Linked DNA regions of Homo sapiens: region 2 is reported to be linked to region 1. The links are microRNA targets in miRTarBase. Many come from high-throughput screens and were not tested one by one. Region 1 holds a microRNA gene; the other region holds the end of a gene's coding sequence.
The links. Region 1 holds the annotated microRNA hsa-miR-509-3p (UGAUUGGUACGUCUGUGGGUAG, at 2,288-2,309, opposite strand). A microRNA usually pairs through its seed, bases 2 to 8, with sites in the 3' UTR of a target mRNA and lowers its output. Matches are read on the target gene's strand: a 7mer-m8 pairs with bases 2 to 8, a 7mer-A1 pairs with bases 2 to 7 and ends in A, and an 8mer does both.

Region 2: the mRNA of SDC3 is a reported target of hsa-miR-509-3p. Seed matches in the 3' UTR shown: 7mer-A1 at 1,848-1,854.

The regions. Positions count from the first base shown.
Region 1 is chrX:147,256,488-147,259,894 of GRCh38, forward strand. MIR509-2 (microRNA 509-2) reads right to left here and starts at 2,363; the gene lies at 2,273-2,363. The region is part of intron 2 of LOC105373347 (periphilin-1); the gene reads left to right. MIR509-3 (microRNA 509-3) reads right to left here and starts at 3,239; the gene lies at 3,165-3,239.
Region 2 is chr1:30,870,555-30,873,961 of GRCh38, forward strand. SDC3 (syndecan 3) reads right to left here. Exons shown (of 5, transcript NM_014654.4): 5 at 1-2,823. The coding sequence ends at 2,657. Among named protein-coding and RNA genes, the nearest start is that of SDC3, 36 kb to the right of the region's middle. RefSeq lists an enhancer at 1-853.

The DNA.
Region 1 (3,407 bases):
AATGGCATGAACCCAGGAGGTGGAGCTTGCAGTGAGCCAAGATCGCGCCACTGTACTCTAGCCTGGGTGACAGAGCAAGACTCCATCTCAAAAAAAATGAAAAAAAAAAAAAAAAAAAGACCAGATCAACTAAGTAAATAACAAGATAATAATCAGTAGGTTCAGTAGGTAGTGGAATGGAAGGAGTAAAAACTCATTTTTCTTTCCAGACTCCGTAATCGAAAAAGCTCATTTTACATACCAGCAGTGATCAACGAGACAGAAAATGGTCTTGGTATCTTGGGATGTTCTTATATTTCTTTTTGTTCCTGAGTTTTCTGAGCATTTTCCTGGAACAAGATAGTTTAAAGTTTTTTTTTTTTTTACACTTTTCCATTCAGTAACATAGCATGAGCATGGCCTCAGAAAGGTGAAACACCAGAGTCATACCAAAATATGCCTAATGGAAATAGCATTAGGACAGGAGAGAGAAAACCAGAAAAAAATAGTGTTGAAAGAAATAATGCTAAAAACTTCAAATTTCATAAAAAACATAAATGTACACATCAAAAAAGTGAGATAAGCATGAAGATATCCAGACTTAAAGACATTGTATTCAATCTGTTAATGGAGAGAGAGAGAGAGAAAGAGAATGTGTAAAAGAAAGAATACCTTTATAGCTGCAAGAGAAAGGGAGCATATTTCATACAAGTGATTCTTACAAGATTTAACACTGACTTCTTTTGAGAAACCATGGAAGCTGGAATCAGTTGTAGAACATATTCAAAATGCTGAAAGAAAAACACAGTTAACCATGAATCTCACATCTAAGTCTAAAAGTTGTTAGATACAGCATTAAAAGCATAATGCATACATTGAAAAACTGTTAAGTCGTACTTTATCAAAATTGAAAACATTTGCTCTGCACAAAATACTGTTGAAAATGAAAAAAACAAAACAGATTGAGAGATAATATATGTAAATCATAATTCTGGCCAAGAAATTGTATGCAGTATACCTATATATCTCTATCTATATGTATATAGTAAACCTCAAAGATAAGTGAACAACTCGGTAAAGGTGAGAAAAATCCCAAAGGCACTTCACCAAGGAAGATACATGAATGGTAAGTAAGTACATGTACAGGTGCTCAACATTTTCCGTCAGTAAGGTGATGCAAATTAAAACCACAACTGACAAGGGAACTATACACATATTAAAATTGCTAATAAAAACAAAACAAAGGCTTTTCAATACAAAATGCTGATAAGAAGTTGGGTAATTGGATCACTAATACATTGCTTAATGCAGCACAAAATGGTAAAACCATTCTGGAAATTATTTTTTAATTAATTTTAAATGTAAACTTACACTTGCCATGTGACCTTCAAATCCTACTAGTAGCAGTTTACACAAGGAAAATGAAACTTGTGTTCATATATACATCTGTATGCAAATATACAAAGTAGCTTTATTTTTAGCCATGAATAACTGGAATAAAACCTAGATGTCCACCTGTGACTTCTACCCTACTTGATTAAAAAAAAAAAAAAAACAGATTATTCTTGCTCTAATTCTGACTCTCATTCTCTCTCCTTTACCCATTTTCTGCTTCCATACACCCTCTCTCATCACTGAATGAGAAAGAAACAACATAAAGGAAGTAAATGAAAACCTAGAGATAAAAAATGTTTTTAAGTAAATGCAAAAAAATCAAACAATAAAAAATTCTCAGCATTATTCACAATTCCTGATATATGACTTACTAATAATAGATTAAAATATATTTACAAAAGAACGAATATGTACTTTATTAGCACATGAAGAAAGAGGACATTTTATATCTGAGATAGAATATATTTTGATTTTCAGAAGGTTAAGTGTTTAAGAAGCAGGAGGGAATTTTGGAAAGCTTAAGAAGACTTGAAAATGAGAAAGGAAGCTAACAGTTAACAGATTTGGATGTTGGAGTAGGCAATAGTTTCTGCAAAAAGAATAATACTCTTAAGGCAGAAAGAAACTGTAAAATGGCAAGATAAACCTTGGTTCAATCAGGCAACATCATAGAAATGGAAATCAATCTCAGAAGAACTCAATGGGAGGCTTGTTGCAAGGACCTTAAATTCCTAGATCACGTGTCTGGTGGTCAGGCACCTGAGAGAGTTTTCTGAGGTAGTCCAGCATGGAAGTGGAGGGTTTGTGAGGGTAAAATACCTGCACTGTAAGGAAAGCATCCCTCTGCATGCAACTAAATGCCTCCAACACACACACAGTGTCATCATGTATGTTGCACGTGTCATGCAGTACTCTACCCACAGACGTACCAATCATTTTTAATTATACATGATTGCCACTGTCTGCAGTAGGGTACCACACACAGCATGTCTGAGGATGGCAGCCTTGCCTTAATACCCACCCATTCACCTTTAAAACAACCATTCAATATTTACAAGCTGTGCGTGGCCATTGGAATTTGGACGAAGGACTTCTGCAGAATTCAATCCACTATCTTTCCTTATATTTCCCGCTTTGAGTCCTGTCCACTCCCACGTTGCATCTTTCACATGACAGTTTTCAGAACTGAGAAATATTAAACATTTCTGTTAGGTTCTGTTACTCACAGAAGAAATATCCTTGCATGTCTTATCCTGTTCCTTATAATAGATTAAAATGTATTTACAAAAGAACGAATATGTACTTTATTAGCACATGAAGAAAGAGGACTTTGTATATCTGAGATAGAAAATATTTTGATTTTCAGAAAAGTTAAGTGTTTAAGAAGCAGGAGAGAATTTTGGAAGGCTTAAGAAGACTTGAAAATGAGAAAGGAAGCTAACCATTAATAGATTTGGATGTTGGAGCAGGAAACAGTTTCTGCAAAATGAATAATACTCTTAAGGCGTAAAGAAACTGTATAATGGCACAATAAACCTTGATTCAATCAGGCAGCATCATAGAAATGGAAATCAATCTCAGAAAAACTCAATGGGAGGCTTGTTGCAAGGACCTTAAATTCCTAGACCATGTGTCTGATTAGGCACCTAAGAGAGTTTTTTGAGGTAGTCCAGCATGGAAGTGGAGGGTTTGTGAGGGTAAAATACCTGCACTATAGGGAAAGCATCCCTCTGCATGCAACTAAATGCCTCCAACACACACACAGTGTCATCATGTATGTTGCACGTGTCATGCAGTACTCTACCCACAGACGTACCAATCATTTTTAATTATACATGATTGCCACGTCTGCAGTAGGGTACCACACACAGCATGTCTGAGGATGGCAGCCTTGCCTTAATACCCACCCATTCACCTTTGAAACAACCATTCAATATTTACAACCTGTGAGTGACCATTGGAATTTGGACAAAGGACTTCTGTAGAATCCAATCCACTATCTTTCCTTATGTTTCCTGCTTTGAGTGCTGTCC
Region 2 (3,407 bases), not on the chromosome of region 1:
CAGGGCAGATTTGGGCTGGTCAGACTCCTCATCCTCAGGAGGATAAAGCCTGGACATCTGCCTTGGGTCCAGGGATCCATGAACAAGGCCCCTGGCCTCTTCTCTCAAATGCTAAGGACACAGAGAAGAGAAGCCAGTGCCTGGAGCCCAAGCCCCAAATCAGAAGCCAACCCCTGGGATGTGAGGAGCCAGGCCTGCCGGGGCCACCCCCACCATTGGCTCCAGCCCTACTGAGAAACTGCACCCACTGTTGGGTCTCCCACCTGGGGTCCAGCATCTTCTGGGGCTGGGGGCCCAAGCCCTTTTCTCCTCTATCCTCCCTGGTTTCTCAGCCTCGGCCTGCCCAGGCCGTCTCACCAGAGCTGTGCTCTCCAAGACAGCAGCACCCCAGGGAGCAGGGTAGGGAGGCTGAGCCTTGTGGTCTGTGGCCCCAGGACCCAGCCCTTCTGCTCCAAAGATGACTGAGGCCAACCCGCCCCCTCCAGATATCAGGGGCCCCCCATGCCCACTCTTCTAAGGCTGGGTCCACCTGGCTTCCTCACAAGCCTCTGGGCCCTGTGAAGGAGGGTTTTGGGACTGGAAGATGGAGCCCAGCCTGGAAAAGACAGGCTGTGGGACAGCCCCTGGAACCTCCCCCTCACTGCCTACACACCGCTACCCCTCATCCTGCAGAAATCTGCTGCCAGGGCATCTTGAAAAGGGCCCTGAAATAAAACCTGCCTTCCTGACTTGAATCTGGGATGTGGGTGAGGGGTGGGGGTGTGAGTGCCAGCCAATCGCAACTCACACCACATCCCTTTGGCTCCAAGAGGCCCCCTGCCAAGCACACCCTCCCCAAAAGATCTGTGACCCCACATTTAAAATACCGATGGAAATAGCCCTACTTGCTAGGTAACAAAGGAAGTAACCCCTCCCCCACTATCACCTGGTCTCATCCCTCAAACCCTGACCTCGGGGCCTGAGGGATCTGCAGGGGCTGCTTCCAGCCATGGCCCCTGAAGCTGCAGCCAGAATTGTTTGGCCAAATAGGTGAGGGGGTGTCCACAGGGAGGGCCTCTGGGCAGGTGGGCTGAGGTTGGCCTGCCAGGCAGAGGGCAGAGGGTGCGGAGGGCCCGCCCTCACAGGCACTTTGGAGACTTGTGTCCTGGGAGGCAGAGTCAGCCCCCTAGCTCAAAGCAGGAAGGGGACACAGGGAGATAAAGGAGCCCAACCACATGCCCCCTCCCTGCCCTGGGCCTTCCGTCCTGGGAGACCCAAGACCCCCCAACAACCTGGGGCCAAATTTCCTTCCTCAGCCTTAGAGGAGCCCCCAGGCTCCCAGCTAGTGGGGGTCTGGCCCCAAACCTCCCCCTCTGCCAGCTGCGGTGGGGAGGAAGCAGGTAGGGGTGAAGCCAGGCCCACCTGCATGCAATGCCCTAAAAGGGCTGTGGCCCCACACTTTTTCCGAGAAAGGCAAGGGCCTGCCTGTTTCCCTCCAGCATTGAGAGCAGGTCATGTGGAGTGAGACTGTGCATCCACATGGGATTGTGTCTGACACTGGCTGGGGTTGGCGGCTGCATGGTTGGTGTGGGCACCATGGCATGGGACTGAGTATGACGGGGCAACTTAGGGGGACCCAATATGGGCTGATTGTTCTGGCTCGATTCCACCCTCCCCAGTAAGCCTGAAAGCTGGAGACAATGTGTGTGGTGCCAGAGTGTGGGTGTATTTGGGGTAGGAGGAGGCCACACTGTCACTGTCATGTGACCATGACTAGTGACTTGCATTGCAGTACGTGTCTGGGGGTGTGTAAGTGATGCATGAGGATAAACATTCTTGGAAGGACGCGTGTGTTCTGTGATATGTCTTGATTGGCTGGGCGGTCAGGATTGCGTATGGTTTTGTCATTGCATGCTTTTGTCTTGTGTGTGACTGAGTGAAAATATGGTGATAGTGTGGGCAATGGTGTCTGTGCAGAGTCCCCTCATAGGAGGGACATCAGAGCAGCCCCTCCTCACCAGTGGCTGCCCCAGCACCCTCAGGAAGCTGTTTCTTGGGGGAAGATGCAGAAAGAAATGAAGTCTGGGTACATGTGTACTTGGCAGGCAAGAGGAGAGATTCAACAACCCCAGAGAGACCAGGACAAAACAGGCTGGTGACAAGGGACACCCTCTCACCCAGCTAGAGAGAGGCCCTGGGATACGAGCAAGAGGTTGCAGTGTCTAGATGATTTCAAGGGCTGTGTTTACCAAATGTTTGTCCTGGAAACCAGCCTGAGTGCCTCTCTGCCCCAAAAAGGAGATCTCAGTGAGCACTGTGGGTGCCAAGTCAGGGCTCAGGCTCATCTCAAGCCCCACCCTTTCTTCCACCACCAGCCAATCAGGAGCTTTCTTCCTCCCATCCATCTGACATGAGGTCCTGAAGCCCCAGACTGGTGGCAGGGATGAGGGGAACAAGAGATGAGCTCGTAAGGGCACAGTCTGGGGCAGATGGCAGCAGCCCCTCTTCCTCGGGGAAGATCTGTGTGAGGCTGGCAGCCTGGGCAGACCTTGGGAGAGAGGGCAGAGAAGAACTGGGGCCAGGTTCCAGGCCCAGTCCCAGGCTTGGGCTGGTGGGGCCAGGCTGGGGACTGGACAGCAGGGTGGTGTTGAGGCTGCAGGGAGGCACTGTGGCTCCACTAGGCATAGAACTCCTCCTGCTTGTCAGGCTTCTGGTATGTGACGCTCGCCTGCTTGGGTTCCTCCAGCGTGTAGCTGCCCTCATCCTTTTTCTTCATACGATAGATGAGCAGTGTGACCAAGAAGGCAGCAAAGAGGGCGCCCACCACCCCGCCCACAATCACAGCTGTGGAAGAAGAGGGCACAGGTCAAGGCCCAGAGGCAGGGTAGAACCAGGGCAAAGGGTCCTCAGGGGTGGGGGCCAGGGTGAGGAGAGGGCTGGGAGTCCCAGATCTGAGTTGGAGTGATGATGGAGTCAATACTACTACTACCAGCACTGGGTACCATCATAGGCCTTCACTGGCTGCATTCTAATCGCCCAACACACTAACTCACTGAACCCTCACACCAGCCCTATGAGGGAGGGGTCATCTGAGGGCTTCATCAAATTTAAAATGCCACCACTCATAAGATGCCCCAGTATTTTATAACTGCTAGGAAAGAAAAAGCTCTGCTAACTAAATATGACATACCCCAACTACAGAAGACTTAACATGTGAACAGATGTGCCTCTTAGAATTGATTAAGGGCAAAATGACTATCCCCATTCTACCGATGAAGAGAAGGAAGACTGGAGAGGTGAAGTACCTTGCCTTGAGTGCAAAGCCAGGATTTGAACCAGGAGTCCACAGACTCCCTAGATGCGGCCAGGGCAGGTCCACAGGGACTGGGGTCAAAAACTGGGGAAGGTCAAGCTGAAGGATGGGTCAG